2 separate regions of the Homo sapiens genome follow, and region 2 is linked to region 1. Evidence: fine-mapped QTL for protein levels in blood plasma. A gene starts in region 1. The other region holds a variant in brackets. All regions are shown on one strand. Distances are between the middles of the regions.

Region 1 (15,651 bases):
CAGAAGGCTGATGGAGGAGAATCGCTTGAACCTGGGAGGCAGAGGTTTCAGTGAGCTGAGATCAGGTCACCGCACTCTAACCTGGGCAACAGAGGAAGACTCTGTCCTAAATAAATAAATAAATAAATAAATAAATATATAACAAACTGGATTTCATTCTTTATGAATTAATAGTCTCTTCTTGGGCCAGGCACAGTGCCACATGTCTGTAATCTCAGCACTTTGGGAGGACAAGGTGGGCGGATCGCTTGAACCTAGGAGTTCGAAACCACCTTGGGCAACCTGGTGAAACCCCATCTCTACCAAAAATGCAAAACTTAACTGGGCATGGTGGTGTGTGCCTGTAGTGCCAGCTACTTGGGAGGTTGAGGTGGGAGGATGGCTTGAGCTCAGGTGGTGGAGGTTACAGTGAGCCAAGATTGGGCCACTGCACTGCAGACTGGGCAATAGAATGAGACCCTTACTCCAAAAAAAAAAAAAAAAAAAAGGTCCATTCTCAGCTCTTCATTATTCATAGAGGAGTCCTTGTCTAAAGTTTTATTATTTAGTTACCAGCCTCCCAGTTGTACAGACACTGCACAGACACTCAGTCCTTCAGTCACTGCTGAAGAGCCAGCAGATGCCATGTCCAGCTTTCTCTCTCTCTAGGGTCTTGGCTCCTGAAATTCCTTGTTCTGTGGAAGCCTCTCTGATGCTTCCTAATAGTTTTTTTGTATTGATCCAGCTTTCCTGGTTGGTCTCAGCAAACAATTGGTCTGCCACAAGCTATTTAAGCCACAATCCAAACTGGAAGTTTCTGCTTCTCATTTTTGAGGTTGGCTTTCATTTCCTCATTGATTTAAAAATTCTAAAAAATACATGCTGTCCATGAGCCCTGGTGCTTCTTTTTAGGGAAAGCCAAAATTTAGTAGTAGCATTTTAAAAATCAATCAGATTTTTAAAATGAAATAGATGCTAAAAGTGATAAAGAACTACCAGGCACGGTGGCTCATGCCTGCAATCTTCCGGGTTCACTCCATTCTCCTGCCTCAGCCTCCTGAGTAGCTGGGACCACAGGCGCCTGCCACCACGCCCGGCTGATTTTTTGTATTTTTAGTAGAGACGGGGTTTCACTGTGTTAGCCACGATGGTCTCCATCTCCTGACCTCATGATCCGCCCGCCTCGGCCTCCCAGAGTGCTGGGATTACAGGCTGAGCCACCGCGCCCGGCCCCCTTGGCTTTCTTGACACTTGGTGTTATGGTCTGAATGTTTGTGTCTCCCCAAAATTCATATGTTGAAATCCTAACCTCCAAGGTGATAGTATTGGAGGTGGGGACTTTGGAAGGTGATTAGGTCATGAGGGTTCAACCAAATGAGTGAAATTAGTGCCCTTATAATAAAAGACCCCAGAAAGCTGGCTCATCCCTTCCACCATGTGAGGACACAGCAAGAAGGAGCCATATATAAACCAGAAAGTGGGCCTTTGCCAGACACCAAATCTGCCAGTGCCTTGATCTTGAACTTTCCAGCCTCCAAAACTGTGAGAAATAAATTGCAGCTGCTATTGGCCACCCAGTTTACAGTATTTTCTTATAATAGCCTGAATGGGCCGGGCCTGGTGGCTCATGCCTGTAATCCCAGCACTGTGGGAGGCCAAAGTGGGTGGATCACCTGAGGTCAGGAGTTCGAGACCAAGCCTGGCCAACATGGTGAAACCTCATCTCTACTAGAGATACAAAAATTAGCTGGGCGTGGAGGCATGCGCCTGTAGTCCCAGATACTGGGGAGGCTGAGGCGGAAGAATCACTTGAAGCCGGTAGGTGGAGGTTGCAGTGAGCCAAGATCGTGCCACTGCACTGCAGCCTGGGTGACAGAACGAGACTCCATCTCAGAAAAAAAATAATAATAGCCTGAATGGACTAAGACACTCACTTTTCCTATTTCTCTGGATATTCTTCTTTGTCTCTTTTGCCACTTCATCCTCTGCAAACAATACATTCAAAGTTGGACTTTTTTTTTATTATTATTTTTTTGAGACGGAGTCTTCCTCTGTCGACTCTGTCTCAAAAAATAAATAAATAAAAAAATATAATCTGATCCTTTCACCACATTGCTTTAGTGCCTTTAATGGCTCTTTCTGCTATTGGATAAGTTAAACTCTCACTTCACCCTGCGTGGTCTGACCACTAACTTCCTCTTACACAAGCCCAATATCTCCACCTGGCTAGCTATAAAATAGAATCTTAAACCCTAAGGACTGCTTTTCTCATTGGTTTCTTTCTTTCTTTTGAGACAGAGTCTCCCTCTGTCACCCAGGAGTGCAGTGGCGCAATTGAGAGGTGACAGCGTGCTGGCAGTCCTCACAGCCCTCGCTCGCTCTCAGCGCCTCCTCTGCCTAGGCTCCCACTTTGGCGGCACTTCAGGAGCCCTTCAGCCCACCGCTGCACTGTGGGAGCCCCTTTCTGGGTTGGCCAAGGCCGGAGCCGGCTCCCTCAGCTTGCAGGGAGGTGTGGAGGGAGAGGCGGGGCTGCGCGCGGCGCTTGCGGGCCAGCTGGAGTTCCGGGTGGGCGTGGGCTTGGCGGGCCCCGCACTCGGAGCAGCCGGCCGGCCCTGCCGGCCCCGGGCAATGAGGGGCTTAGCACCCGGGCCAGCGGCTGCAGAGGGTGTACTGGGTCCCCCAGCAGTGCCAGCCCACCGGCGCTGCACTTGATTTCTCACCGGGCCTTAGCTGCCTTCTCGCGGGGCAGGGCTCGGGACCTGCAGCCCGCCAAGCCTGAGCCTCCCACCTCTCCCCCGCCATGGGCTCCTGTGCGGCCGAGCCTCCCCGATGAGCGCCACCCCCTGCTCCAAGGCGCCCAGTCCCATCGACCACCCAAGGGCTGAGGAGTGCGGGCGCAAGGGCGCGGACTGGCAGGCAGCTCCACCTGCAGCCCCAGTGCAGTGATCCACTGGGTGAAGCCAGCTGGGCTCCTGAGTCTGGTGGGGCCGTGGAGAACCTTTATGTCTAGCTCAGGGATTGTAAATACACCAATAGGCACTCTGTATCTAGCTCAAGGTTTGTAAACACACCAATCAACACCCTGTGTCTAGCTCAGTTTGTGAATGCACCAATCGACACTCTGTATCTAGCTGCTCTGGTGGGGCCTTGGAGAACCTTTATGTGGATACTCTGTATCTAACTGATCTGACGGGGACGTGGAGAACCTTTATGTCTAGCTCAAGGTTTGTAAACGCACCAATCAGCGCACTGTCAAAACAGACCACTCGGCTCTACCAATCAGCAGGACGTGGGTGGGGCCAGATAAGAGAATAAAAGCAGGCTGCCCGAGCTAGCAGTTGCAACCGGTTGCGAGTTGCTTTCTGTGCTGTGCAAGCTTTGTTCTTTCGCTGTTTGGGTCCACGGTTCTTTTATGAGCTGTGATACCGCGGAAGTCTGTAGCTTCACTCCTGAAGCTAGCAAGACCACAAGCTCGCCGAGAGAAACGAGTAACTCTAGACGTGCCATCTTAAAAGCTGTAACACCGCGAGGGTACGTGGTTTCATTCTTGAAGTCAGTGAGACCAAGAACCTATCAATTCTGGACACACGATCTCGGCTCATTGCAATCTCTGCCTTTGGGTTCAAGTGATTCTCCTGCTTCAGCCTCCTGAGTAGCTAGGATTACAGGCTAGTGCCACCACACTAAGCTAATTTTTGTATTTTTAGCAGAGATGGGGTTTCATCATGTTGGGCAGCCTGGTCTTAAGCTCCTGACTTCAGGTGATCCACCTGCCACACACTTCCAAAGTGCTGGGATTACAGGTGTGAGCCACTGTGCCTGGCCTCTTACTGGTTTCTTTGCTTGATAATATGTTGCAAATATATAACATTATTCACATAGAAATCTTTTTCTGAAGGCGTAAATACTGACATATTGGGGAGGTTTCTTTTTCTTCTTGGTTTTTATTTTATCTTAGAGGTAGGGTCTTTGTCACTCAGGCTGGAGCACCGTGGCTTGATTATAGCTCACTGCAGCCCTGATCTCTAAGGCTCAGGTGATTCTCCCACCTCAGCCCCTCAAGTAGTTGGGACTACAGGTACATGCTACCATACCTGGCTAATTTTTGTTTGTTTGTTTGTTTGTTTTTTTTTTTTTGGTAGAGAGAAGGTCTCACTATGTTGCCCAGGCCTCAAGTAATCCTCCTGCCTTTGCCCCACAAAGTGCTGGGATTACAGGTGTGAGGCATTGTGGCCAGCCAATAAGTTTTAAGTGGAAGAGAGTGGTTGTCTTTTAATGTTATAGCTGGAGTGATTTGGTGATTTCCTGGCACACAGGTTTTTAAAAGCATGTACACAATAGGGTTTGTTTTCTTGCTACTACTGGAATCCTCCTGCCACAATGTACGTAAATCCAGGCTAATCCGCTAGAGGATGACCAAAGAGAGACGTGAATCAGCCAGCCCCACCCAGCCCACCAGCTTATTGCAGAGTGAGCTCAGCTGAGATGGAACCGATCCGATCCAATCCAAACCAGAATCACCCAGTGGTGTTCAGCCCAAATTGCTGACTCTCGGGAACTATGAACTAATTGAATAGCTGTGTATTTTAAGTTTTAAGTTAATTGATTATACAGCAAAACCTAACTGATGCCCTGTCCTGATTCCAAACACTGGGTACTCATGTTAAAAGAGCATCACCGGCCAGGCATGCTGGTTTACATCTGTAATCCTAGCACTTTGGGAGACCAAGGCAAGAGGATCACCTGAGCCCAGGTGTTCGAGATCAGCCTGGGAAATAACATAGCGAGACCCTGTCTCTACAAAAAAAATTTAAAAGATCCCCAGGTGTAATGACGTGTATCTATAGTCCCAGTTACTCGGGAGGCTGAGGTGGGAGGATCACTTGATCCCAGGAGGTCAAGGCTACAGTGAGTGAAGGTCGAGACACTGCACTTCAGTCTGGGCAACAGACTGATATCCTGTCTCAAAAACAAAAAATGGCCAGGCATTGTGGCTCACACCTGTAATCCCAGCACTTTGGGTGGCTGAGGTGGGCGGATCACCTGAGGTTGGGAGTTCAAGACCAGTCTGACCAACATGGAGAAACCCTGTCTCTACTAAAAATACAAAATTAGACAGTCGTGGTGGCGCATGCCTGTAGTCCCAGCTACTCGGGATGCTGAGGCAGGAGAATTGCTTAAACCCGGGAGGTGGAGGTTGCAGTGAGCCAAGATTTAGCCACTGCACTCACTCCAGCCTAGGTGACCAGAGAAAGACTCCATCTCAAAAAAAAAAAATATTTCTGTTTCTCACTCAGCCAGTTTCCATCTCAGCTGGGCCAGCTGCACTCCACCTGGTCCTCAAGCTAATAGATTTCACTTCCCTGAAGGCCCACAAAATCTTTTTTTTCTCTTTTTTTTTTCGTTGACACAGAATCTCACTCTGTCACCCAGGCTGGAGTGAAGTGGTACGATTACGGCTCACTGCAATCCCTGCCTCCCAAATTCCAGTGATTCTCGTGCCTCAGCCTCCTGAGTAGCCGAAATTACAGACGTGTGCCACCATGCTTGGCTAATTTTTTGGATTTTTAGTAGAGATGGGGTTTCACTATGTTGGCCAGGCTAGTCTTGAACTCCTGGCCTGAAGCAATCCGCCCACCTCAGCCTCCCAAAGTGCTGAGATTATAGGCACGAGCCACTACACCTGGCCACAAAATTCTTTAAAGAAGCCAATCCCATCCTCCCTCAAGAGCCAAGGGGCCACCTCACCCTCTTGTTACAGCAGATCCTGCCTCCCACAGTCACCCTGCTCCCAAGTGCAACCTCTGTCTGACCCTGCATGGTGTGCGGTGCCCTCCTGCCTCAGGCCGTGAGTACATGCAGCTGAACTGCTGTCAGTCTTATCTGTCCAGTGTCGGGTGTTGTGTGTCCAGCCACCCATAACCCTGGGTTGGGACTCCCTCCCTCACCAACCGGGGGAAGAAGTAGTGAGCAAACCATCTACCAATTCTTATCTAGATTTATCCTCTTCAGCTGTAGCTTTTGCAATACTCTGGTCATACTCAAAGCATTCTGCTGGGATGTCACCTGAGCTGGGCCTACATGCAATTCTGCTTTTCTTCTGAGAAAATAATTTGTCATTCTTTCTGCTTTTATAATTTGTTCTATTTTAAATTATTTTTCTCATTTTTGCCTTTGCTCCTTTCTTCTCAGCATTGTATACTCAAAGGAATACCCTCATACTCTACATTTTAATCCAAGACAGAGGAAAGCAACAGGGAGAACCCCTGAGGCAGGGGCAGAGGGAGGTTCAGGGAACTGTAAATGGGAGGTAGACAAGAGACCAAACAGGACTTTAAGTTGTTTCAGCAAGTATACAGCTTAGAAAGGATCTCATTGGTCTGGGTCCTAAAATATCTCAAAGGATGGCTGCTAACTCAAAACTTTTTTTTTTTTGAGACTGAGTCTTGCTCTGTCACCCAGGGTGGAGTGCAGTGGCACGATCTCGGCTCACTGTAAGCTCCGCCTCCCGGGTTCAAGCAATTTTCCTGCCTCAGCCTCCTGAGTAGCTGGGACTACAGGCATGCACCACCACACCTGGCTAATTTTTGTATTTTTAGTAGAAACGGGGTTTCACCATGTTGGCCAGGATGGTCTCGATCTCTTGACCTCGTGATCCGCCCACCTCAGCTTCCCAAAGTGCTGGGATTATAGGCATGAGCCACCGTGCCCAGCTCAAAACTTTTTTCTCACTACTCTACAATTAAATCTCAGTTGAACTCTGGGAAGATTCTGGAATACCTAGGTTCTTTCTTTCTCAGTGTCTATTTCACCAGTAGTTGTAACCATCCTTCAACCAAACATCTCCATTTGAGTAGCATAGGCTATAATGGATTTTCTCTATTTAAGATTACTCAGCAGTGGCCGGGCACGTGGTGGCTCACAACGGTAACCCCAGGACTTTGGGAGGCTGTATTAGTCCGTTTTCATACTGCTGATAAAGACATACCTGAGACTGGGCAATTTACAAATGAAAGAGGCTTTTTTTTTTTTTTTTTTGGAGATGGAGTTTTGCTCTTGTTGCCCAGGCTGGAGTGCAACGGCAGGAGGTCAGGAGTTCGAGACAAGCCTGGCCAGTATGATGAAACCCTGTCACTACTAAAAATACAAAAATTAGCTGGGCATGGTGGCACATGCCTGTAGTCCCAGCTGCTCGGGAGGCTGAGGCAGGAGAATCGCTTGAACCCGCGAGGCAGAGGTAGTAGTGAGCTGAGATTGCACCACTATACTCCAGCCTGGGTGGCAGAGTGAGACCCTGTCTAGAAAAAAAAAAAAAAAAAAAAAAAAAAGACAATCAGACCTGCAACCATGAACTGTTTTTCATGTATTTCTCGATTTCCTTGTTTGTGTTTCCTTATTTCTGAACATGATGTATGTTTTAAATTGAAAGCTTTAGCTCACTGCAGAGTCTCCTAAGTCACATCTCTTCCTTTGCAAGAGTAGGCGAAGAAGGATCTAAGGGCTTGGCTTGTTTGAAAGAACCACACCCCGAAAGTAACATCTTTGGAGAAAGTGATACAAGAGCTTCTGCACCCACCTGATAGAGGAAGTCCAAAGGGTGTGCGCACACACAATGGTGCCTGAAGAAGAGCCTCAAGACCGAGGTAAGCACTCATCTTCTCAGTTCTAGGGAAGGTAGTAGGAGCAGGATGGAGTGGGAAACAGGCATTGAGGTGATAGGGATGACTTTGGAAGAAGAAGTAGACAGCTTTTCATAAATAATAGTAATTTCAGTATGGAAACAGGTATGGACCCAAGATACTTGGATCAGGGAAAGATGAAAGAAAAAAAGAAAGGCCGGGCGGGCGCGGTGGCTCACGCCTGTAATCCAGCACTTTGGGAGGCCGAGGTGGGCAGAGCACCTGAGGTCAGGAGTTCGAGACCAGCCTGACCAACATGGAGAAACCCTGTCTCTACTAAAAATAGAAAATTAGCCAGGCGTGGTGGCACATGCCTGTAATCCCAGCTACTTGGGAGGCTGAGGCAGGAGAATCACTTGAACCTGGGAGGCGGAGGTTGCAGTGAGCCGAGATCGTGCCATTGCACTCCAGCCTGGGCAACAGGAGTGAAACTCCATCTCAAAAAAAAGAAAAAAAGAAAAACAACTCGGGCCTAGAAGGCCTTAAAGGAATATGAATTTGGCCAGGCATGCAGGCAAATGCCTAAAGTCCCAGCTACTCAGAGGTTGAGGCAGGAGGACCACTTAAGCCTGGAAGTTTGAGGCCAAGGCTGTGCAATTCAAGGGAAAAGAGAGTAAGGAATTGGAAAGTACAGTTTACTCTGAGAGTTTTGCCTGGATTTGTCTTGGGTTCCAGGGTACTATCTGGTCATTTGTTCTGAGATAATTTCTATAATCTCTTTTTGCTTTCACATTTTTTCTGTTTTAATTAGTTTTGATCATAGCCTGACTTTATTATTCTAAGATTTTTGGGACTCTGGTTTCCTGGCTCTTTGGCAGTGGGGATTATGACTGTGCATTTGTCATGCTGATCTGACAGAGAAAGGACTCTGGTGGTTCCAGTTGAAGGTCTGGTCCATGGCAGTCGTATCCATCTTGCTCCTCAGTGTCTGTTTCACTGTGAGTTCTGTGGGTAAGTTCTTGGCTGGAGTGCAGTCATCTCTTGGTCCTTTTCCCAATCACATTTTATCAATTTCCTGAAGAAACACGTTCCTCTTTCTTTTTTTTTCTTTTTTTTTTTTTTTTTTTTGAGACGGAATCTCGCTCTGTCGCCCAGGATGGAGTGCAGTGGCGTGATCTCGGCTCACTGCAAGCTCACCTCCCGGGTTCATGCCATTCGCCTGCCTCAGCCTCCCGAGTAGCTGGGACTACAGGTGCCCGCCACCATGCCTGGCTAATTTTTTGTATTTTTAGTAGAGACGGGTTTTCACTGTGTTAGCCAGGGTGGTTTCGATCTCCTGACCTCGTGATCCGCCCACCTTGGCCTCCCAAAGTGCTGGGATTACAGGTGTGAGCCACCGCGCCCGGCCACGTTCCCCTTTCTTGACATAAAATGGCAACCCTAACTGAGAAGGCTATGTTTCTAATAAAATGAGTTATTACTATTATTAATTATTCTGGATAATTGTGTGTACTTCCAGGTTTCTTTGCCTGGTTTTAGTTGCATTTTTCAAATGTGATCATAACTGTCTTGGTCAGCTTGGGCTGCCATAACAAAATACCATAGACTGGGCCAGGCGTGGTAGCTCATGCCTGTAATCCCAGCACTTCGGGAGGCCAAGGCAGGCAGATCACCTGAGGTCAGGAGTTCAAGACCAGCTTGGACCATATAGTGAAACCCTGTCTCTACTAAAAATACAAAAATTAGCTGGGTGCAGTGACTCGCGCCTGTAATCCCAGCTACTTGGGAGGCTGAGGCAGGAGACTCAGTTGAACCCAGGAGGCAGAGGTTGCAGTGAGCCGAGATCACGCCACTGCACTCCAGCCTGGGTGACAGAGTGAGACTCTGTCTCAAAAAAAAAAAAAAAAAAAAAAAAAAGCATAGACTGAGTGAGTTAAAAAACAGATATTTATTTTCTGATGGTTCTGGAGGCTGGAAGTCTGACATGAGGATGTCAGGATGGTTGGGTATGGTGAGGTCCCTCTTCCTGGCTTACAGCTGATGCCCTCTTGCTGTGTCCTCACATGATGGAGGGAGTGCTAGCTCGTCACGGTTTCTTCTTATAAGAGCATTCATCTCACCATGAGAGCCCCCCCTCATAACCTCATCTAAACCTGATTTCCTCCCAAAGCCCCTATCTTCAAATACCACAAATTGGAGCTTGGGACTTCCATATATGAACTTGGGGAGGACGCAATTCATTCTATAACAATAACTCCACTTTGATGGGTGTGCTGATGGTGGGTACCATCTAGTTGATCTGCTCCTTTGTTTTAAAAAAGTCTCTATTGGGAACATAACTATTATTCTTTCTATGATGCTATAATTGTATTACTGTGGGGTTTTAATCTTCATGTGAGATTCTTCCCAACATGACAGGAAAAATTGTTCATATGGCCAGGCAGTGGCTCACACCTGTGAGCACTTTGGGAGGCTCAGGTGGGAGGATCGCTTGAGGACAGGAGTTCAAGACCAGCCTGGGCAACAGAATGAGACCCTGTCTCCATAAAAAATAAAAAATATAACTTGGCATGGTGGCATGTGCCTGTGGTCCCAGCTACTCAGGAGGTTGAGGCAGGAGGATCGCTTGAGCCCAGGAAGTTGAGGCTGCAGTGAGCCATAATCGTACCACTGCAATCCAGCCTGGGCGACAGAGAGACCCTGTCTCAAAAAATAAAAATAAAAATAAATGTTTATACAGTGATACAATGGAAAAATAAACAAAGTAAACTATTATTTAATTGCTACTCCCTTTGCCAAGTTTTATATTTTTGTGACACCTGAGAAATTTCCCAACTCTCTTGTTTACTATTTGGGTGTCAAAATGTGCTCTATTATCTAATATTATGATTAGAAACAGAAATGAAACATCTGTGAGGAAGTTACTGAATACGATGACTTCCTATGTCAAGTAAAAATGTGTTGATGATACAGTCTTCAGTTTCTTTCTAGTTGTAAATACATCTCACAGTTTTCAATGTAACCCCAAGAGGCAGAATTATTACTAAAGTTAAACTTTGCTTTGCTTTTTATAACAAAGGGCAAGAGACAAAAGGGCTTAAAGATGTGATATGGTTGGGATAGTTGTCCCTTCCAAGTCTCATGTTGAAAATTTGAAATTTGGAAGGGACAACTATCACTTGAAATTTGAAATCCCCACTGTTGGAGGTGGGGCATGGCAGGAGGTTTTGAGTGATGCAGATGGATCCCTCATGAATGGCTTGGCACCCTCCTCGAAGGAATAAGTGAGTTCTTGCTCTGAGTTGGGGTGAGATCAGCCCCTCCCCCTCACTCTCTCTTGCACCCTCTCTTGCCATGTGATATGCCAGCTCCCGCTTTGCCTTCCACTATGACTGAAAGCTTCCTGAGGCCTCACCAGAAGGTGAGCAGATGCTGGCACCATACTTACTGTACAGTCTGCAGAACTGTGAGCCAGTAAAATGTCTTTTCTTTATAAATACCAAGTCTCAGGTATTCCTTTATAGCAATGCAAAAACGGACTAATACAAGATGGTTATTTAATTATCTGAGAGGAAAGAAGACATGCAAGAACTTAAAGACATAAATTCAGAGAAAATAGAAGAGTTTGACTAGGTTTAGTCTCAAAATCAGAATGATGAAATACATGAATAAAGAATTAAGGCCGGGCGTGGTGGCTCACTTTGGGAGGCCGAGGCGGACGGATCACGAGGTCAGGAGATCGAGACCATGGTGAAACCCTGTCTCTACTAAAAAAAAAATACAAAAAAAATTAGCCGGGCGCGGTGGCGGGCGCCTGTAGTGCCAGCTACTCAGGAGGCTGAGGCAGGAGAATGGCATGAACCCAGGAGGCGGAGCTTGCAGTGAGCCAAGATCGCGCCACTGCACTCCAGCCTGGGCGACAGAGCAAGACTCCATCTCAAAAAAAGAAAAAAAAAAAAAAAGAATTAAGTGAGGATAAGTGAAAAGTCAGATCTTGCTCTATGTGCCTGCCAGTGAACAAAAGAGACCGTTTTTAGCAAAAGATGTCTAAATGTCTCCAAAGGGTTAGGTTTTACCTTATATTTAATTTGACCCAAATGGTTTACTTACAGTTACAGCCATCAGAAAACTATGGAAAAACCAAAAGACCTGTGATATTTCAGGATTAATAGAATTAGATGCTGTTACCTAGTAAGTCAACAAATGCTTACTGAACACCTACTATGAGCAGGCCACTTTTCTAGGTGCTGGGTATATAGCGTGAATACAATGAAATTCCTTCACTAGACTGTATGTTATTGTAGGGGGAAATCAAGATATATACGTATGTAAACTTATAAACAAACAAGATAAATGAATATAAGATAGGGTTAAGAACATATTTTTTACTGGACCTGCACAGAAAGAAGCATGAGAAAAAAACAGTACGGCTTGAAATGGGATGGGCAAGAGAGAGATGTTGCAGACTTTGTAAGAGCATAACGTTTATTTATTTATTTATTTATTTATTTATTTATTTATTTATTTATTTTTGAGATGGAGTCTCGTTCTGTTGCCAGGCTGGAGTGCAGTGGTGCGATCTCGGCTCACTGCAACCTTCGCCTCCCAGGTCGAAGTGATTCTCCTGCCTCAGCCTCCTGAGTAGCTGGGATTAATAGACACGTGTCACCACGCCTGGCTAATTTTTGTATTTTTAGTAGAGATGGGGTTTCACCATGTCGGTCAGGCTGGTCTCAAACTCCTGACCTCATGATCCACCCACCTCGGCCTCCCAAAGTGCTGGGGATTACAAGCATGAGCCACTGTGCCCAGGCTTTTTTTTTTTTTTTTCGAGACAAAGTCTGGCTCTATTGCCCAGGCTAGAGTGCAATGGCACGGTCTCTGCTCACTGCAACCTCCACCTCCCAGGTTCAAGTGATTCTCCTGCCTCAGCCTCCTGTAGCTGGGATTACAGGCATGTGCCACCATGCCCACCTAATTTTTGTATTTTTAGTAGAAACAGGGTTTCACCATGTTGGCTGGGCTGGGCTTGAACTCCTGACCTCAGGTGATCCACCCGCCTTGGCCTCCCAAAGTACTGGGATTACAGGTGTGAGCCACCATGCCCAGCCGTAAAGTCATAAGATTCTTTATTTTTATTTATTTATTTATTTATTTTTTTGAGATGGAGTTGCACTCTTGTCACCCAGGCTGGAGTGCAATGGCACGATCTCGGCTCACTGCAACCTCTGTCTTCCAAGTTCAAGTGATTTTCCTGCCTCAGCCTCTTGAGTAACTGGAATTACAGGCGCCTGCCACCACCCTTGGCTAATTGTTTTTTTGAGACACAGTCTTGCTCTGTCGTCCAGGCTGGAGTGCAATGGCGCGGTCTCGGCTCACTGCAACCTCTGCTTCCTGGGTTCTAGCAATTCTCTTGCCTCAGCCTCCCAAGTAGCTCGGATTATAGGTGCCCGCCACCACACCCAGCTAATTTTTGTATTTTTAGTAGAGACGGGGTTTCACCATGTTGGTCAAACTCCTGACCTCAAGTGATCCAACCAGCCTCGGCCTCCCAAAGCGCTGGGATTACAGGTGTGAGCCACTGTGCCTGGCCACCTGGATAATTTTTATATTTTTGGTGGAGACGGGGTTTCACCATGTTAGCCAGGCTGGTCTCTAACTCCCGACCTCAAATGGTCCTCCCACCTCGGCCTCCTAAAGTGCTGAGATTACAGGCGTGAGTCACTGTGCCTGTCCACAGCATAAGATTGTATAGTACAACATAGATCCACTTAAAAGAATGAGAACTAACTCCGATTTCTCTTTCCCAGTGCCTCACAATTTTATGTATAGCAAAACTGTCAAGAGGCTGTCCAAGTTACGAGAGTATCAACAGTATCATCCAAGCCTGACCTGCGTCATGGAAGGAAAGGACATAGAAGGTACAACTCTGCAATGGGCAACAAGACTTCCCTTGCTATTAATCAAATTCCTAGTCTGATGGTTTATATCTTCAGCACTAAAATTATCAACTGCAGCCTGGTTTTTCCTACTGCATTCTTTAACTATCTACTTGGTATCTTAAATAGACACCTCAGGCTGGGCCCAATGGCTCACACCTGTAATCCCAACACTTTGGGAGGCCGAGGTGGGTGGATTACCTGAGGGTCTGGAGTTTGAGACCAGCCTGACCAACATGCGGAGAAACCGCATCTCTACTAAAAATGCAAAAAAAGTCCGGGCGCGGTGGCTCAAGCCTGTAATCCCAGCGCTTTGGGAGGCCGAGGCGGGCGGATCACGAGGTCAGGAGATCGAGACCACGGTGAAACCCTGTCCCTACTAAAAATACAAAAAATTAGCTGGGTGCAGTGGCAGGCGCCTGTAGTCCCAGCTACTCGGGAGGCTGAGGCAGGAGAATGGTGTAAACCCAGAAGGTGGAGCTTGCAGTGAGCCGAGATCGCGCCACTGCACTCCAGCCTGGGTGACAGAGCGAGACTCCGTCTCAAAAAAAAAAATAGACACCTCAAAATTAAAGTATCAAACAGGGGTCCTCAGAACTGTCTCACTTCCTCCTGCTCCCATCAATATTAAAGCCTAAAACTCAAGAATCATTCTTAGCAGTTTTTTTCTCTTTTTTCTTTCTTTTCTTTTTTTTCTTTTTTGAGACGGAGTCTCACTCTGTCGCCCAGGCTGGAGTGCAGTGGCGCGATCTCGGCTCACTGCAACCTCTGCCTCCCAGGTTCAAGCAGTTCTCCTGCCTCGGCCTCCCAAGTAACTGGGACTACAGGCACACGCTGCCAGGCCCGGCTAATTTTTTTGTATTTTAGTAGAGACGGGGTTTCACCTTGTTGTCCAGGCTGGTCGTGAACTCCTGAGCTCAGGCAATCCTCCCGCATCGGCCTCCCAAAGTGCTGGGATTACAGGCGTGAGCCACCGTGCCTGGCCAGCAGTTTTTCTTTGCTTATCATCTTCACCCCTGCATCCAATTAATCACTAAGTTCAACAGTAAATATATCCCTCTCCCTATACAGTTCTGGATTAACTGAAAAATAAATATACACAGGATTCAGATAAGAATAAAATTATGCCTGGCATAGTGGCTCACATCTGTAATCCCAGTGCTTTGGGAGGCTGAGGAGGGGTAATCACCTAAGCACGGGAGCTTGAAACCAGCCTGGGAAACAAGATGGGACCTCAACTCTACAAAATACTTAAAAATAAATCACCCAAGCGCAGCACGGTGGCTCATGCCTGTAATCCCAGCACTTTGGGAGGCCGACGCGGGTGGATCACCTGGGGTCAGGAGTTCGACACCAGCCTAACCAACATGGAGAAACCCTGTCTCTATTAAAAATACAAAATTACCCGGGCGTGGTGTCGCATGCCTGTAATCCCAGCAACTCGGGAGGCTGAGGCAGGAGAATCACTTGAACCTGGGAGGTGGAGGTTGTGGTGAGCTGAGATTGTCCCAGCCTGGACAATAAGAGTGAAACTCCATCTCAAAAAAAAAAAAAAATTACCGAGCTATGGTGGCATGTGCCTATAGTCCTAGCTACTTTGGAGGCTGAGGTGGGAGGATCAGTTGAGCTCCGGAGGTTGAGGCTACAGTAAGCAGCAATTACACTGCTGCACTCCAGCCCGGGTGACAAAGTGAGACCCTGTCTAAAAAAAAGATAATAAATAAAATAAAATTATCAGCTTTATTGATGGTAAAATCAAACCATGAAATATGGCCTAGAGTGAGGCCAAACTGTTGCTCCCTAGTCCAGGCCTACTCACCTCCTCAGGGATAATTGGTCGGCTGTGTCCAGGATCAGGGACTGCCTACAGCGTCGTATGCAGAGCCGGAGGGAGACAAGTTCCACCCCAGAAATGCCTCTATGGCCTTAATCCTTTGCAGGAAGGAAATATGGACCCAAAGGGCATCAAACAATTATTTCAAGAATGAAACAGGCCAGGCGCGGTGGCTCACCCCTGTAATCCCAGCACTTTGGGAGGCCGAGGCGGGCGGATCACGAGGTCAAGAGATTGAGACTATCCTGGCCAACATGGTGAAACCCCGTCTCTATTAAAA
Region 2 (15,651 bases), 26 kb after region 1:
AACGCCGTCTCTACTAAAAAACTCAAAAATTAGCCAGGCATGGTGGTGGATGCCTGTAATCCCAGCTACTCAGGAGGCTGAAGCAGGAGAATCACTTGAACCTGGGAGGCGGAGGTTGCAGTGAGCCGAGATCACGCCATTGCATTCCAGCCTGGGCAACAAAAGCAAAACTCTGTCTCAAAAAAGGAAAAAAAAAAAATAGCCAGGTATGGTGGCATACGTTTGTAGTCCCAGCTACTCAGGGGGCTGAGGTGGAAGGATCGCTTGAGTTTGAGGTTGCGGTGAGCTACAATCACGCCACTGCACTCCAGCCTGAGTGACAGAATAAGACCTTGTCTCAAGAAAGAAATTAAAGAAATAAGTAAAAGGATATTTGAACACACACAAAGACACCAGGGGTGTACGTACACAGAGGGCCGACCATGTGAAGACACAGCAAGAGTGTGGCCATCTGCAAGCCAAGGAGAGAGTCCTCAGAAGACACCAACCCTGCTGACACCTTGATATTGGACTTCCAGCCTCCACAATTGAGAGGAAATAAGTATTTGCTGTTTAAGTAACGCAGTCTGTGCCATTTTATTATAACAGCCCTAGCAAACCAATCATGCAGTACTGATGTCAGTATTTGATGTACTTTCTGTGTTTGGTCAAAAGGTTTTCCATTTCGTTCTGATTTATTACTTTTAGCTGAAAGCAGACTATGCAGCAAGATACACAAGAACACAAGATATCCAAAGAAGGCAGTGTTCTTGCTTAGGTCCAATAAATTACTTGGGCTTCTTGATATTCGTTCAGTCTTGGGCTGGCACCTCACCTCAAGGTGCACAGAGAGGGAGATTAGAGATGATTATTCTCCTGGTTAGCTGGCAAACAGAATTATATTCCTTGTCCTCATATCCCAATAAGTTTTTTTCTTTTTCTTTTTTTTTAGACGGAGTTTCGCTCTTGTCACCCAGGTTGAAGTGCAATGGCACGATCTCGGCTCGCTGAAACCTCTGCCTCCTGTGTTCAAGCGATTCTCCTGCCTCAGCCTCCCAAGTAGCTGGGACTACAGGCCTGCGCCACCACACCCGGCTAATTTTTTCTATTTTTTTTTTTTTTTTTTAGTAGAGACAGGGTTTCACCATCTTGGCCAGGCTGGTCTTGAACTCCTGATCTCATGATCCACCCGCCTCGGCCTCCCAAAGTGCTGAGATTACAGGCGTGAGCCACCGCGCCTGGCCCCCAATAAGTTTTTCTTTGGTTCAAAGTTTCTGTGTATGGATTGCCACCTCAAATGTTCCCCGATTTGTTCTTATTCTTTTTACTGAAGTTCCCACAGGTCACTTTATTTCTAGTATAGTAAAAATACATCATATTTACATCAGAGTAATGCATTGCTCTGGTATAGTGATCAGAATTACAATAAAGCTGGTTCCATCCATGACTACTTTTGTAGATTTTCCCAATATGACTTCCAACTTTCTGAGATTGTGCCCTGATCATCTTGATGCAACAGAATCATTTCATTTCTTCGGCCACTGATTTCTTCACTCTCCTTTAGGATGGGCTATTTTGAAAGAGCTGAACTTGGCCGGGTGCAGTGGCTCACACTTGTATTCCCAGCACTTTGGAAGCCCGAGGCAGGTGGACCACTTGAGGTCAGGAGTTTGAGACCAGCCTGGCCAACACAGTGAAACCTCCTCTCTACTAAAAATACAAAAAAATTTGCCAGGCATGGTGGCGGGTGCCTATAATCCCAGCTACTCAGGAGGCTGAAGCAGGAGAATCGCTTGAACCTGGGAGGCAGAGGTTACAGTGAGCCGAGATCACGCCATTGCACTCCAGCCCAGGCAACAGAGCGAAACTTCATCTCAAAAGAAAAAAACAAAAAGCCAGAAAGATCTGACCTCACCTTAACCACTGTAGGTAGAATTTATCAGTTTAACTCTTACAAATCAACTTAACCAATTCCTCTCATTTGCCCATCCCTATGAGTAGTTTTAAGCCTTGCTTGCAGATTATAATCAGAATCCTAGGGAGCTTTTTAAAAAATGCCTCACCCCAGATATCCTCATGTTTAAGTTTCTGGGATTGAGAACCCCTGATCTACATTTGCTGTTGTGCAATATCATTTCATACACAAGCTCAGCACTATGAGGTGGACACCTCCTGAGCAGATGGGAAAATTACATTTGATAGCCACATTAGTTTCCTGTTCCTGCTGTAACAAATCAACGCAAAATGGCTTAGAACAACACAAATTATTTTTTTCTTTGAGACGGACTCACTCTCACCCGGGTTGGAGTGTAGTGGCATGATCTCAGCTCTGCAACCTCAGCCTCCCAAGTAGCTAGGACTGGCATGCACCAACGTGCCCAGCTATTTTGTATTTTTGGCAGAGATGGGGTTTCGCCATGTTGCCCAAGCTGGTCTCGAACTCCTGGGTACAAGCCATCTACCTGCCTCGGCCCCGCAAAGTGCTGGGATTACAGTGTGGGCCACTGTGCCTGGCCACAAGTTAATTTTTTTTATAGTTCTGGAGGTCAGAAGTCCAAACTGAGACCCAGTTCTCTGAAGTCAGGGAGGCAGCAGGGCTAGTTCCTTCTGCAGGCTGTGAGAGAAAAATCTGCTTCCTTGACTTTTCCAGCTTCTAGTGGCCACCTATATTCCTTGGCTTGTGGCCACTTCATCTGCCTTCAGAGAGCGCCTCTCCAAAATCTCTGCTTCTGTGATCACACTGTCTTCTCTAACTCTGACTTCTCCTGTGTCCCTCTCATAAGGATCATTGTGATTACACCGGGCCCCCTTGGACAATCCTGACAATCTCCCAGACTCAAGATCTTTAAAATAATCACATTTACAAAGTCCTTTTTGCCATATAAGGTAACATTTGCAGGCTCTGGAGATTAGAGTGTGGGCATATCTGAGGGCCATTCAGCATATTACAGTAACTTTTTGTTTGTTGGTTTGAGACAGAGTCTGGCTCTGTCACACAGGCTGGAATACAGTGGCACCATCTTAGCTCACTGCAACCTCTGCCTCCCGGGTTCAAGAAATTCTTGTGCCTTAGCCTCCCGAGTAGCTGGGACTACAGGCACATGTCACCATGCCCAACTAATTTTTATATTTTTAGTAGAGACGGTGTTTCACCACGTTAGCCAGGTTGGTCTCAAACTCCTGGCCTCAAGTGATCCGACCTCCTCAGCCTTCCAAAGTGCTAGGATTACAGGCATGAGTCTGTAATCCTACGCCCAGCCCTTACAGTAACTTTTGACAGAAAGTATACAAGAGTAGAAAGATTAATCAGAATTTCATTGAATTCTATTTCATTTATTTCAAGATACCTAAGTTATAATGTAATATTGAAGCATGAAACCTAAAGTTATATACATAAAGCTTGTTTGATTGAGGAAACTCAACTAAGATATAAATGTGAAATTGTTTTGTTGATTTCAATACCTGCTACCGTTGGGGTCTGTGAAACCCTTTTTTTCCAGCGTAGCAGGTCTTCATTAATGAAATATTAGTCCAGTTCCACGATATTTGGGTCATTTTCAGTTACTGAAACACTTTTGACCAGGCATGGTGGCTCATGTCTGTAATCCCAGGACTTTGGGAGGCCAAGGCAGGAGGATCGCTTGAGCCTAGGAGTTTGATACCAGCCTGGGCAGCATAGCAAGACCCCCATCTCTACAAAAAAAATTAAAAATTAGCTCTGTGTGGTGGTGTGTGCCTTTTGTTCCACCTAGTCAGGAGGCTGACGTGGGAGGATCAGTTGAGCCTGGGAGGTTGAGGGTGTAGTGAGATATGACCATGTCACTGCACTCCAGCCTGTGCTATAGAGCAAGACCTTGCCTCAAAAAAATAAAAAATGTTTAAAAAACCAGTTTATTGGGGTTGGATATGATGAATAAAAAGAAAAAAATTAAAAAAACCTTTCAGTTATTAAGTTTAGAATTTAGAAATATAATACTCTATAATGAAAAAGTAATTTGTAATAAAATATATACTTGACGTGTAAATGTTCACTTTAAATGTTTGAATTATACTTGATTCAAAGCTCTCCCATTCCAGTGATAGTCAGGGGTGGTTTTGGATTCTCAACACTGACCAGCCATCAGTTTCCTCTCTGTGGCAATGGCCTAAAACTTGGCTGTTTCATGGGGTTGCATTGATTGGATTTTAGAGAGCTCTATGGGTGTTGGTCTCTGCCCAGTCCTTTGTCATAAAAATGGAACTGAGGCTTAAACTTTTACTCCATCCCCACAACCTTTTGCTTTTGGGGAATTCTCATCCAGCAGTCCCTTGTTGGGGGAAGGTCATGGGTGGTTACTTACAAGATGGTTTGTGTTCCACCCACTTTCTGAACTGTACTTGCGTCACCAAATGGTGGGAATGCCAGCTGTTTGCAGACACTCTGCCTAGCATCACCCTGCGCTCCTTTCTCACCAACCGGCAGCATCAGGCCTGGCTATCAGGCTCTCTGCTGGTTCAATGGCTCAGCAATTAGATTAGATGTAATCACCAGCTCCAGTTTTATTTGTGGGCAAAGATACTTTGGTCACATCTGATCCTGCAAGGAGGAGGGGGTACATATAAAATGCCCTGCCCTTTCCCAAAAAAAGATAAAGCAGATAGGAATCAGTAACATAAGGTCGGCATTCTCCCAAATGTACTCTCTTATCCTATCGCTAGCCTACTTTTGATAGTGAAAAACGTTCTTGTGTCTGATCTTACAAAACGGTGTCCCTTAGCAAACGCTGCAGGAAGGAAACTGAGCTGGAGTTACTCTGAAACTAAAATGTGACTATGGGTCCTGGTAACCAGGAAATAGGAAAGATCTCATCTACCACCTCTCATTTAGCAAGTTACACACACCATTTCTTCCTGATATTTATTACTAGATTTTCACCTTTTTTTTTTTTTTTTTTTTTTTGAGATGGAGTTTTACTCTTGTTGCCCAGGCTGGAGTGTAATGGCGTGATCTCGGCTCACTGCAACCTCGTCTCCTGGGTTCAAGTGATTCTCCTGCGTCCCACTCCCGAGTAGCTGGGATTACAGGCACGCACCACCACGCCCAGCTAATTTTTGTATTATTAGTACAGACGGGGTTTCACCATGTTGGCCAGGGTGGTCTCGAACTCCTGACCTCAGGTGATCCACCTGCCTTGCCTCCGCCTCTCAAAGTGTTGGGATAACAGGCGTGAGCCACTGTGCCTGGCCAAGACTCTCACTGTTTTGAAAAATAATGGATCTTAAGATAAACTTAATTTTCAATCTCTCTTTTTTTTTTTTTCCTGAGATGGAGTCTTGCTCTGTCGCCCAGGCTGGAGTGCAGTGGTGTGATCTCAGCTCACTGCAATCTCCGCCTCCCAGGTTCGAGCGATTCTCCTGCCTCAGCCTCCTGAGTAGCTGGGATTACAGGCGTCCGCCACCATGCCCGGCTAATTTTTGTATTTTTAGTAGAGATGAGGTTTCACAACATTGGCCAGGCTGGTCTTGAACTCCTGACCTCAGGTAATCCACCCGCCTCAGCCTCCCAAAGTGCTGGAATTACAGGCATGAGCCACTGTGCCTGGCCTCAATCTTATAAGGAATTCAAAAGAATAGAGAAAAGCCCACAAGCATATGAGAAATCTCATTATGGCACAGCACAAATTTGATAAGTGATATATCAAACCAAAGTATCCTTATAACAATTTTTTATTTTTTGAGACAAGGTCTCACTCTATTGCCCAAGCAGGGCCGTGATCTCAGCCTCTCAAGTACCTGGGACCACAGGTGCACACCACCACACCCAGCTAATTTTTTTTATTATTTGTAAAGATGAGGTCTAGCTATGTTGCCCAGGCTGGCATTAAACTCCTGGGCTCAAGTGATCCTCTTGCCTCAGCCTCCCAAAGTGCTGGGAGAGCAGACGTAAGACACTGTGCCCAGCCTATTTTTAATTTATTTTTAGAGAAGGGGCCTCACTATGTTGCCCAGGCTGCAGTGCAGCAGCTGTTCACAGTGTGATCATAGGGCACTACAGCCTCGAACTCCTGGCCTCAAATGATCCTCCCTCCTCAGCTCAGGAGTAGCTGGGTCTACAGGTTTATGTCACCTTGCCCGGCCTAATAATATTTTAAATTAATAAAGTCTCAACAACTTGAAAAAGAAGAATAAAGTTGGAAGACTCACACTTCCTGATTTCAAAATGTACCACAGAGCAAGAGTAACCAAGACAGTGTGATATTGGCATAAAAACAAACATATAGATCAGGCCAGGTGAGGTGGATCACGCCTGTAATCCCAGCACTTTGGGATGCCAAGGTGAGCGGATGGCCTGAGATCAGGAGATCAAGACCAGCCTGGCCAACATGGTGAAACCCAGTCTCTACTAAAAATACAAAAATTAGCCCGGCGTGATGGCACACACCTGTAGTCCCAGCTACTCGGGAGGTTGAGGCAGGATATCGCTTGAACCCAGGAGACGGAGGTTGCAATGAGCCAAGATCGCACCACTGCACTCCAGCCTGGGCAACAGAGCAAGACTTCATCTCAATAAATAAATAAATAAACAAATGTATAGATCAATGTAATAAGCAAATTCAAAAATAAACATTCACATTAATAGTCAATTGATTGTTAACAACTCAATAGGGAAAGAATGGTCTTTTTTTATTTTTATTTTTTATTTATTTATTTATTTTTTTAAGAATGGTCTTTTCAACACATGTTGCTTGGACAGCTAGATAACCATATGCAAAAGAATTAAGTAGGACCCCTATCTAACATCATATAGAAAAATATATGTATATTTTTTAAGTCACAGAAACTTTTATTGGGAAGGAATGAGCTGTAGTAAAGTGACAACCAGTGCATGTGACCAAATGGGTGAGGTGGGGGTACAGGTGGGCACCAAGGGCTGGTCCAAGACCAGAGCTGGTGACCGCTGGGGCCTGATTGTGGGGCCTTGGGCCATAGGCCCTTTGGGCTGGACTGCGTGGGCCAGCAGAAATACAAAAATAAACTCTGGGCCGGGCGTGGTGCCTGTGCTGGGATTACACCTGTAATCCCAGCACTTTGGGAGGCTGAGGTGGGCGCATTGCCTGAGGTCAGGAGTTCCAGATCCGCCTGGCCAATGTGGTGAAACCCCGTCTCTACTAAAAATACAAAAATTAGCTAGGCGAGGTGGCAGGCACCTGTAATCCCAGCTACTCGGGAGGCTGAGGCAGGAGAATTGCTTGAACCCAGGAGGCGGAGGTTGCAGCGAGCCGAGATTGCACCATTGCACTACAGCCTGGGCTACAAGAGCGAAACTCTGCCTCAAAATAAATAAATAAATAAATAAATAAGTTGCCTTTTGAACCCCTGGGGTCCTCTAGCCCATTTCCTCCCTTCCTATCCCTTCCTACCCCTTTCCCGCTTCCTATCCCTTCCACATCTTCCCCCCGGCCCCCAACACTACACCTGACTAATTTATTTTTTGTTTGTAGAGACTAGGATCTCACTATGTTGCCAGGCTAGTCTCGAACTCTTGGCCTCAAGCAAATCTCTGGGCTCAGCCACCAAAAGTGCTGAGATTATAGGCATGAGTCACCACATCTGGCCATAAATTTCTTGAATTTTATCCTTCTACTGTGGTTATATAAGTCAATATTCTTGTTCTAAGAAAACACAAACTATTTTGGGATGAAGTGTTATCTGAAATTTACTCTCAAATATCTGTTTAAAAAGAGAAAATATAGAATGTTAAATGAAATGTGGCTAATGCTAACAATTGTTGTATCTAGGTAAAATGTACACACAGGTTTATGAGCTTAAGCTTGCAACTTTATGTAGTTTGAAATTTTTTTAAAAAAAGTTTAAAGTAAAACAAAAAATGTTGAGTGAACAGCAAATAGAGAAATTAACAGCGTTAGCCTGGGCAACACGGTGAAACTCTGTCTCCTCAAACAATACAAAAAATTAGCCGGGCATTGTGGCTCATGCCTGTAGTTCTAGCTACTCAGAAGGCTGAGGTGGGAGGATTGCTTCAGCCCGGGAGGTGGAGTTTGCAGTGAGCCAAGCCTCACTACACTCCCAGCCTGGGCAACTGAGAGAGACCCTGGCTCAAATAAGTAAATATAGAAAAAAAACAACTTTCATATATTACAACCAGTTGAAAAATGTAATGGCAATATTTTAACACACCATAATATAATCTGAAGAGGAAGATATCTGTAGAAAGTACGACTTGGGCCAGGCGCAGTGGCTTACGCCTGTAATCCCAGCACTTTGGGAAGCCGACACGGGGAGAGGTCAGGAGAATTGCTTGAACCCAAGAGGCGGAGGTTGCAGTGAGCCGAGATTGCACCATTGCATTACAGCCTGGGCTACAAGAGCAAAACTCCATCTCAAAAAAAAAAAAAGAAGAAAGTACCGACTTGGCTTAGCTGACTTCCATCTCGGATAAGCCACTTCTTATGTAACTTTGAGCAAGTTCACTACTTTTGTGCTTTTTTTTTTCTGTAAAATGAAGACACCGAAAGTGACCTATCTCAGAAGTTTTGAGGTTTAAATAAGCTAATGCACGTAAAATCCTTAGAATAATGCCTAGCACTCAATAAATGTAAACTGGGAGCATAAAGATTCAGGGCAACTTGAACTGATGCTCTCAGCAGGAAATACATGAAAGGAAGATATTATTATAGAAAGGTTTAAAAATATACCTAAATACTAGCCAGGCGCGGTGTCTCATGCCTATAATCCCAGTACTTTGGGAGGCCAAGGCAGGCAGATTGCCTGAGGTCAGGAGTTCGAGACCAGTCTGGCTAACATGGTGAAACCCTGTCTCTACTAAAAATACAAAAATTAGCTGGGCGTGGTGGCACACGCCTGTAGTCCCAGCTACTTGGGAGTCTGAGGCAGGAGGATCGCTTGAACCTGGGAGGTGGAGGTTGCAGTGAGCAGAGATGGCACCACTGCACTTCAGCATTGGTGACAGAGCGAGACTGCATCTCAAAAGAATACGAAAGGACATGTGACATGTAGAATTAATGTTTTCATTAATTTACAAATTTAACATGATTGCAATAAAAATAAGTTGCCTTTTTTAACTAGTCAGTGATTTTCAAGCTCATACAGAAAAATAATAAAAGTTAGCTTTGCTACTAGGAACGATTTGTAAGTTATAACAAATGCTCTGCCGGGCACAGTGGCTCATGCCTGTAATCCCAGCACTTTGGGAGGCTGAAGTGGGTAGATCATCTGAGGTCAGGAGTTCGATACCACCAACATGGTTAGACCCTATCTGTACTAAAAAATACAAAATTATCTGGGTGTGGTGGCACATGCCTGTAATCCCAGCTACTCAGGAAGCTGAGGCAGGAGAATTGCTTGAATATGGGAGGCAGAGGTTGCAGTGAGCTGATATTGCGCCACTGCCCTCCGGCCTGGGCAACAAGAGTGAAACTCCATCTCAAAAAAAAAAAAAAAAAAAAAAAAAAAGAAATATAACCAATGCTCAATCTGCCCCACATTTGTCCTTGCTGGTAGACCATGTTAAATTTAGTTCTTCAGTGGGGTAACTTCTGATGACCAAACTTGGCAGTGTGGTCCTGCACTCCAGCCTGGGCAACAAAGTGAGACCCCATCTCAAAAAACAAAACAAAAACCACAAAGAAATCACTGGATAGCATCTTCTTGGGTTATTACATATCATGCAGATATCCTTTCCAATTCTCCCTGTGATATTATAAAACATATTTGTTCTTAGTCACCATTTCCTGTCATATAGCTCCTAAAATCTTCAAAATCTCTGGAGTGATAACTTTTGTATGCTAATGGTGACTGCTTTGCTGGGGGCTCCAAGATACCCTCAGGATGTGGGCAGGTTGCCAGGAGAAACCACCAAGTGATTGGAGGGTTGAAAGTTTCACTCCCATTCCGGGACCTCCAGGGGAAGGGACAGGGGCTGAAGGTTGAGTTGATAAACCAATGGCCAGTGATGTAATCAATCATGCCTACCTAATGAAGCTTCCCTAAAAACACAAAAGGAGTTCTGAGGGCTCCTGGACAGTTTCACACTCCTTAAGGGTGGTTCACCCTGCTTGTCTTTTCTCCTATACCTCGCCCTATGCATCTCTTCCATCTGGTTATTCATCTGTATCCTTTGTAATATCCTTCACAATAAGTAAGGTGTTTCCCTGAGTTCTATGAGCCACTAGAGCAAATTAATCAAACTCAAGCAAGGGGTCGAGGGAACCCTGATTTGTAGCTGGTCAGTCAAAAGCACAGGTAAGACAACCTGAAGCTTGTGATTAGCATTAGAAGTGCAGGCAGTCTTGTGGGACTGAGCCTTCAACCTGTAAGATCTGGAGCTATTTCCAGGTAGACAGTGCTGGAATTGAATTAGACACCCAGCTGATATCTATGGCAGAATTGCTTGCTTGGAGGCCAGGTGCCGTGGCTTACACCTGTAATCCCAGCACTTTGGGAAGCCAAGGCAGGCAGATCATCTGAAGTCAGGAGTTCCAGACCAGCCTGGCCAGTATGGTGAAACCCTGTCTCTACTAAAAATACACAAATTAGCCAGGCGTGGTGGCAGGTGCTTGTAATCCCAGCTACTCAGGAGGCTGAGGCAAGAGAATCGCTTGAACTCAGGAGGCGGAGGTTGCAGTGAGCTGAGATAGTGCCATCACACTCCAGCCTGGGCTACAAGAGCGAAACTGTCTCAGAAAACCAAACAAACAAAAAAGAATTGCTTGCCTGGTGTGAGGACCCCTGCATATTTCCTATCAACAACGTAGTAAGCTCCACTTCTGTTCTACCTCCTTCCAATTTTCACATCTCTAATGGGAAGTTGATATTTGCAACTATCTGTGCCTGTGTTTTCCAATCTCACCCAAATGTACAATGAAGTTTCTTCCCAGTGGGAAGATATAAAATATTAGAATGCCAGATATTTACATTCTAGAAATGTAATAAAACTATTGTTCATCTAATTGTTAGTAAGAAAAAGAATAAAATCAAGAACAATTTTTAAAAGGTACTCAAATGTCAACTTTATTGTTTCTATATAAACACTTTTGTACTGAAAACTGTAAAAATAACAAAGTTTGCTGTGATTGCAATCCAAATTTTTGAAAGCCAGAAAATCTAATTATGCTATAGCCCAACTACCTAATGCTTTCTTTATCCATAAGTAACTTTGCTTCAATTTCTTGATGTTGGGTTTCATCTCACTGACTTTGGGCTTCTAAGACACATGGGAATACTTATATC[A/G]TCTTGGCTTCTTTGGGTCAAATCAAACAGTAGAGCTAAAGTTATTCAAATACATTCAGATTACACAGATCCCTTATGAATTACTAGTATCATAGTAGGAAGAAAAAGATACAAGAAAAATACATCCTAGAACTCATTATCAAAATTATTGGTGTATAGTCTATACTAGCATAGAGTAGCTTTCTCAACCTGCTATATAAAATTACTACCAAGAAAAAAAGGTGCAAGAATAAGATTTATGGCTGAAGTGGCTTGGTGTCTTGATTCCCTATTCTAGCATTCTCAGAAGGATCCCATCCATTAGACACGCAGAAACTGCAGGGACATTTGAATGGTCTTGATTCCTTCTGAAAAAAAATGATGAAATGGATTAATTGGAATATTGTACCCCAGAGAAATGTAATAAGCCCTCAACTATAATGTTGTTTATTTTGGTAAGTGTTGGAACAGGGAACACACACAAAAAAGGACACACGGGCCAAAAGCAAAACATTTTAGGAGAAAAAAAGATCAAAATATGGGTACCACAGAATGGCAGCTTGTGGGTCATTTTGTAATGGTAACAAGTGCAGACTGTCAATAAAACATTCTAGTCTCCGTTCTCTGAATGCCTTAAATGTAACTCATTCTGCTACTAGACACTCTGCTGAAGTGTTTGTCCTCTTACTATACAGTGCTACCGTGAAGATATTTGTGACAGCACGTGAAAGTATCAACCTAACACCAAGAGTGACCCCTAGTGTAAACTATGAACTCTGGATGATAATCCTGTCAGGGTAAGTTCATCAGCTGCAAAGTGTGCAATTCTGGTGTGTGACGTTGACAGTAGAGGCGGCATGTGTGGGGTGTGGGGGAAAGGCTATGAACATAAAACTTCTCTGAAAAATAAAGAATAAAGAATATATTTTTAAAAACTACAAACATGAACTGACTTATCCAGAGTCCCTGGGGATTCAGAAAGTCCAAGCAAATTCCCTAATTCCCTATTCCGGCAAAAGGAAACAAACCAGATACCCATCCACATATATAGCCAAAAAAAAAAAAGGAAAATAAAAAGAAAAAAATTATACTTACCTTAACTCCCTTAGGCTCCTTGTTTGTTGGTCTTCTTTCATGCTTCATGGGAAAAAAATATGTTTATTGAAAACTATCAAGAAAAAGATTACTAATATTACACATCTATATAAGGGAGAGAAGCTAGGGAATTTGTTGAGACAGGGTCTTTCTCTGTTGCCCAGGCTGGATTGCAGTGGAGCAATCATGGCTCACTGCAGCCTTAACCCCCCAGGCTCAAGTGATCCAGCTGCCTCAGCCCTCAGCCACCCACCCCACAGCAGCTGGGACTTACAGGCACGCACCACTACACCCAGCTAATTAATTTTTTGTAGAGATGGCTGATTTTATTAATTTTTTATATTGCCTAGGCTGGTCTGGAACTCCTTGAGCTCAGGTGATCCTCCCACCTCAGCCTTCCAAAGTGCAGGGATTACAGACGTGAGCTGGGAGTCTTTTTTTGAGACGCTTGTTTTGTTCTTGTTGCCCAGGCTGGAGGGCAATGGCACAATCTCGGCACACTGCAACCTCCGCCTCCAGGGTTCAAGCAATTCTCTAGCCTCAGCCTCCCAAGTAGCTGAGATTGCAGGTGCCCACCACCAGGCCCAGCTAACTTTTTGTATTTTTAGTAGAGACAGGGTTTCACCATGTTGGCCAGGCTGGTTTCGAACTCCTGTCCTCAGGTGATCCACCTGCCTCAGCCTCCCGAAGTGCTCAGATTACAGGCCTCAGCCACCGCACCGGGCCTAGAGCTAGGGAGTCTTAATTAGGTCTTAATTTATGAGTGTCACTCTCCGGAATTGGACAGCCCCGGCCACATCACATCAACATACCGTACGAACTCCGCCGAGTAACATGTATCTCAATCTTGCCATCTTTTCTCTCTGCACAGACAGCAATGTTCTTACTCCTCTCCTGCTGTAAAGCCACTCATCTTCGATTTCCCTGAGGACTGCTGCTCCTACAGACTCTCGACGGAGTAAAGCTTCCGATAGAGGGGAAACAGATTCGCTACTAGCGTTGATAGTCAAGTTACTAAGGTTCTTTATCAACGTCTCGGAGGAGATTTGAGAGGCCCCTGAAAGAGAAGGTTAAAAGCCATTACATTAAGGGGATCTTCAACATTCACACATCAACTAGGTCTGCCCTTAAGCAGGGGAACAGGGCGCTGTGTGGGAAATTCCTCAGGGTGGAAGGTCACAGTAAACAACGCACAACCTCTAGTCTTTTCTCAAAAATCGCAAAGTTAGCCCAGCGCGGTGGCTCACGCCTGTAATCCCAGCACTTTGGGAGGCCGAGGCGGGCAGATCATAAGGTCAGGAGATCGAGACCATCCTGGCTAATACGGTGAAACCCCCTCTCTACTAAAAAATACAAAAAATTAGCCGGGCGTTGTGGCGGGCGCCTGTAGTCCCAGGTACTTGGGAGGCTGAGGCAGGAGAATGGTGTGAACCCAGGAGGTGGAGCTTGCAGTGAGCCGAGATCGCGCCACTGCACTCTAGTCTGGGGGACAGAGCAAGACTCCGTCTCAAAAAAATAAATAAATAAAAATAAAAATAGAAATAAAACTACAAAATTAGCCAGGCGTGGTGGTGGTGCATGCCTGTAATCCCAGCTACTCGGGAAGCTGAGGCAGGAGAATCGCTTGAATCCGGGAAGCGGAGGTTTGCAGTGACCTCAGGTTGCGCCACTGCACTCCAGCCTGGGCAACAAGAGCAAAACTCCGTCTCAAAAAAAAAGGAAAGTCAAGGCAGGAAGAAGTCACTTGTACAGGGGCACATGATAACACAGTTGACCCTTGAACAACACGGGTTTAAACTTTGGGTCCCACTTACGCGAGAATTTTTTCCAACCAATCACAAAATTCGAAATCCCCACACACACTGTTAACCTTTTTCACAAGGTTTCGCAGGGCCCACTGTGGCACTTGATCACTTACAGATTTTGGGGATGTCCTGGAACAATTCCCAGAGTATAACCGAGGGATGACTGTAATCCCTTGTTTTCTAGACTGTTATTATTATTATTATTAAGACGGAGTCTCGCTCTGCCTCCCAGGCTGGAGTGCAGTGGCGCCATCTCGGCTCACTGCAAGCTCCGCCTCCCGGGTTCACGCCATTCTCCTGCCTCAGCCTCCCGAGCAGCTGGGACTACAGGCGCCCACCACCATGCCCGGCTAATTTTTTTCTATTTTTTAGTAGAGAAGGGGTTTCACCGTGTTAGCCAGGATGGTAGACTGTTATTTTTTGAGACAGGGTCTTGCTCTGTCACCCAGGCTGGAGTGCAGTGGCACTATCATGGCTCATTGCAGCCTCTACCTCCCAGGCTCAAGGGATCCTCCCACCTCAGCGTCCAGAGTAGCTGGCGCTACAAGCGTGTCCCACACGCTGCCCTGAGCTAGCTTTGTTCACTTACACTTAAGAGATCCACTGAGTATCTCACAAGCATTACCTACCGTACATTCTGTGGAATCTTGTGAAAGAGACAAGAAAAACCCATATACTATTTTCTCCCAGAATCCTCATCCTTAAGCAAAACTGGGCAGTCGAAGTAAGTGGCTGTTACCCTCTCCAGTTAGCCCTAATTTAGTTGCCCAGCTCCTTCATGGTATTAGATCTCTTCACTCAAACTCTATTTTGGGAAATCAACCACTCATTCTCGTCTCTCCCATCCGAACTGTGAGGCGTATCCCATACATACGCATATCTCATACAATAAGAAGGTTATCGTTAACTGCCCGTGTATGTGTGTTTTGTTTTGTTTTTTGCCCCCTATATGTGAAAGTATTAAACAATATCAAAGTTCGAGATCGATTCTCAAAGTCTAGGGACCTGTGCACATAGAAACGAGGATCCTTTGTGGAACTGTGAGGTACTAAGGCAGACGCAAGGAAAGGGAGAGACTGGGGGTACGTTCATTTTTCTTTCCCACTCGGATATATAGACCAGCATTCTTTCTTCTGGACGCAGGGGACACAGCTAAGACCAGGCGCAGAGGGCGTCAGCGCGCCAGCGGCCCAGTTCCCAGACCTCCCAGCATCGGGCAGTCGAAGGTGTTGGCTCCAGGGTTTCTGCCGCCACCACCCTAGACACCCAGCCCCGCTGTCAGGGTCATAAATAAGACTTCAAACCACGTGGAGGGCCTCTGTGGCCAAGCCCGCGCTTGGGTGCTGCTGTAAGAAAGGAGTTCTCCACCGGAAGACCCGGCCTATCAGGGAGCAGAATTACCCAAGCAGTTTCTAGATAAGCCGCCCTCCGGTGGAGGTCCTGCTACTAATTTACATTACGGAGCACGTTTACGGCCTCTCCCTTCCATTTTCCCAGTGAAGCTGTTAGTCTGTTTATTAACATTTAGCTGGAAAGCCTGTCT

Alleles and levels. Alleles are on the strand shown, and positions count from the first base shown. The strength of an association depends on the size of the effect and on how common the allele is.
With allele A in place of G in region 2, the plasma level of the protein whose gene starts at base 7,565 in region 1 is lower (moderate association).

Evidence for each region. PIP is the chance, under the fine-mapping model, that this variant and not a neighbour inherited with it causes the effect. Protein levels are from antibody-based Olink assays in UK Biobank. Linkage for the fine-mapping came from a reference panel and not from the study's own genotypes, which makes the PIPs less certain.
Region 2: its variant is fine-mapped to the plasma level of the CLEC4C protein (UK Biobank, PIP above 0.99).

The regions. Positions count from the first base shown.
Region 1 is chr12:7,739,289-7,754,939 of GRCh38, reverse strand. CLEC4C (C-type lectin domain family 4 member C) reads left to right here and starts at 7,565. Exons shown (of 6, transcript NM_001371390.1): 1 at 7,565-7,622; 2 at 8,517-8,609; 3 at 13,409-13,519. The coding sequence starts at 7,592. RefSeq lists enhancers at 5,250-5,329, 5,510-5,689, 5,710-5,789.
Region 2 is chr12:7,712,892-7,728,542 of GRCh38, reverse strand. It overlaps DPPA3 (developmental pluripotency associated 3), which reads right to left. Exons shown (of 4, transcript NM_199286.4): 2 at 13,116-13,360; 3 at 12,304-12,345; 4 at 10,984-11,576. The coding sequence ends at 11,466. Among named protein-coding and RNA genes, the nearest start is that of DPPA3, 9.3 kb to the right of the region's middle. The variant A/G (reference allele first, on the strand shown) is at 11,230.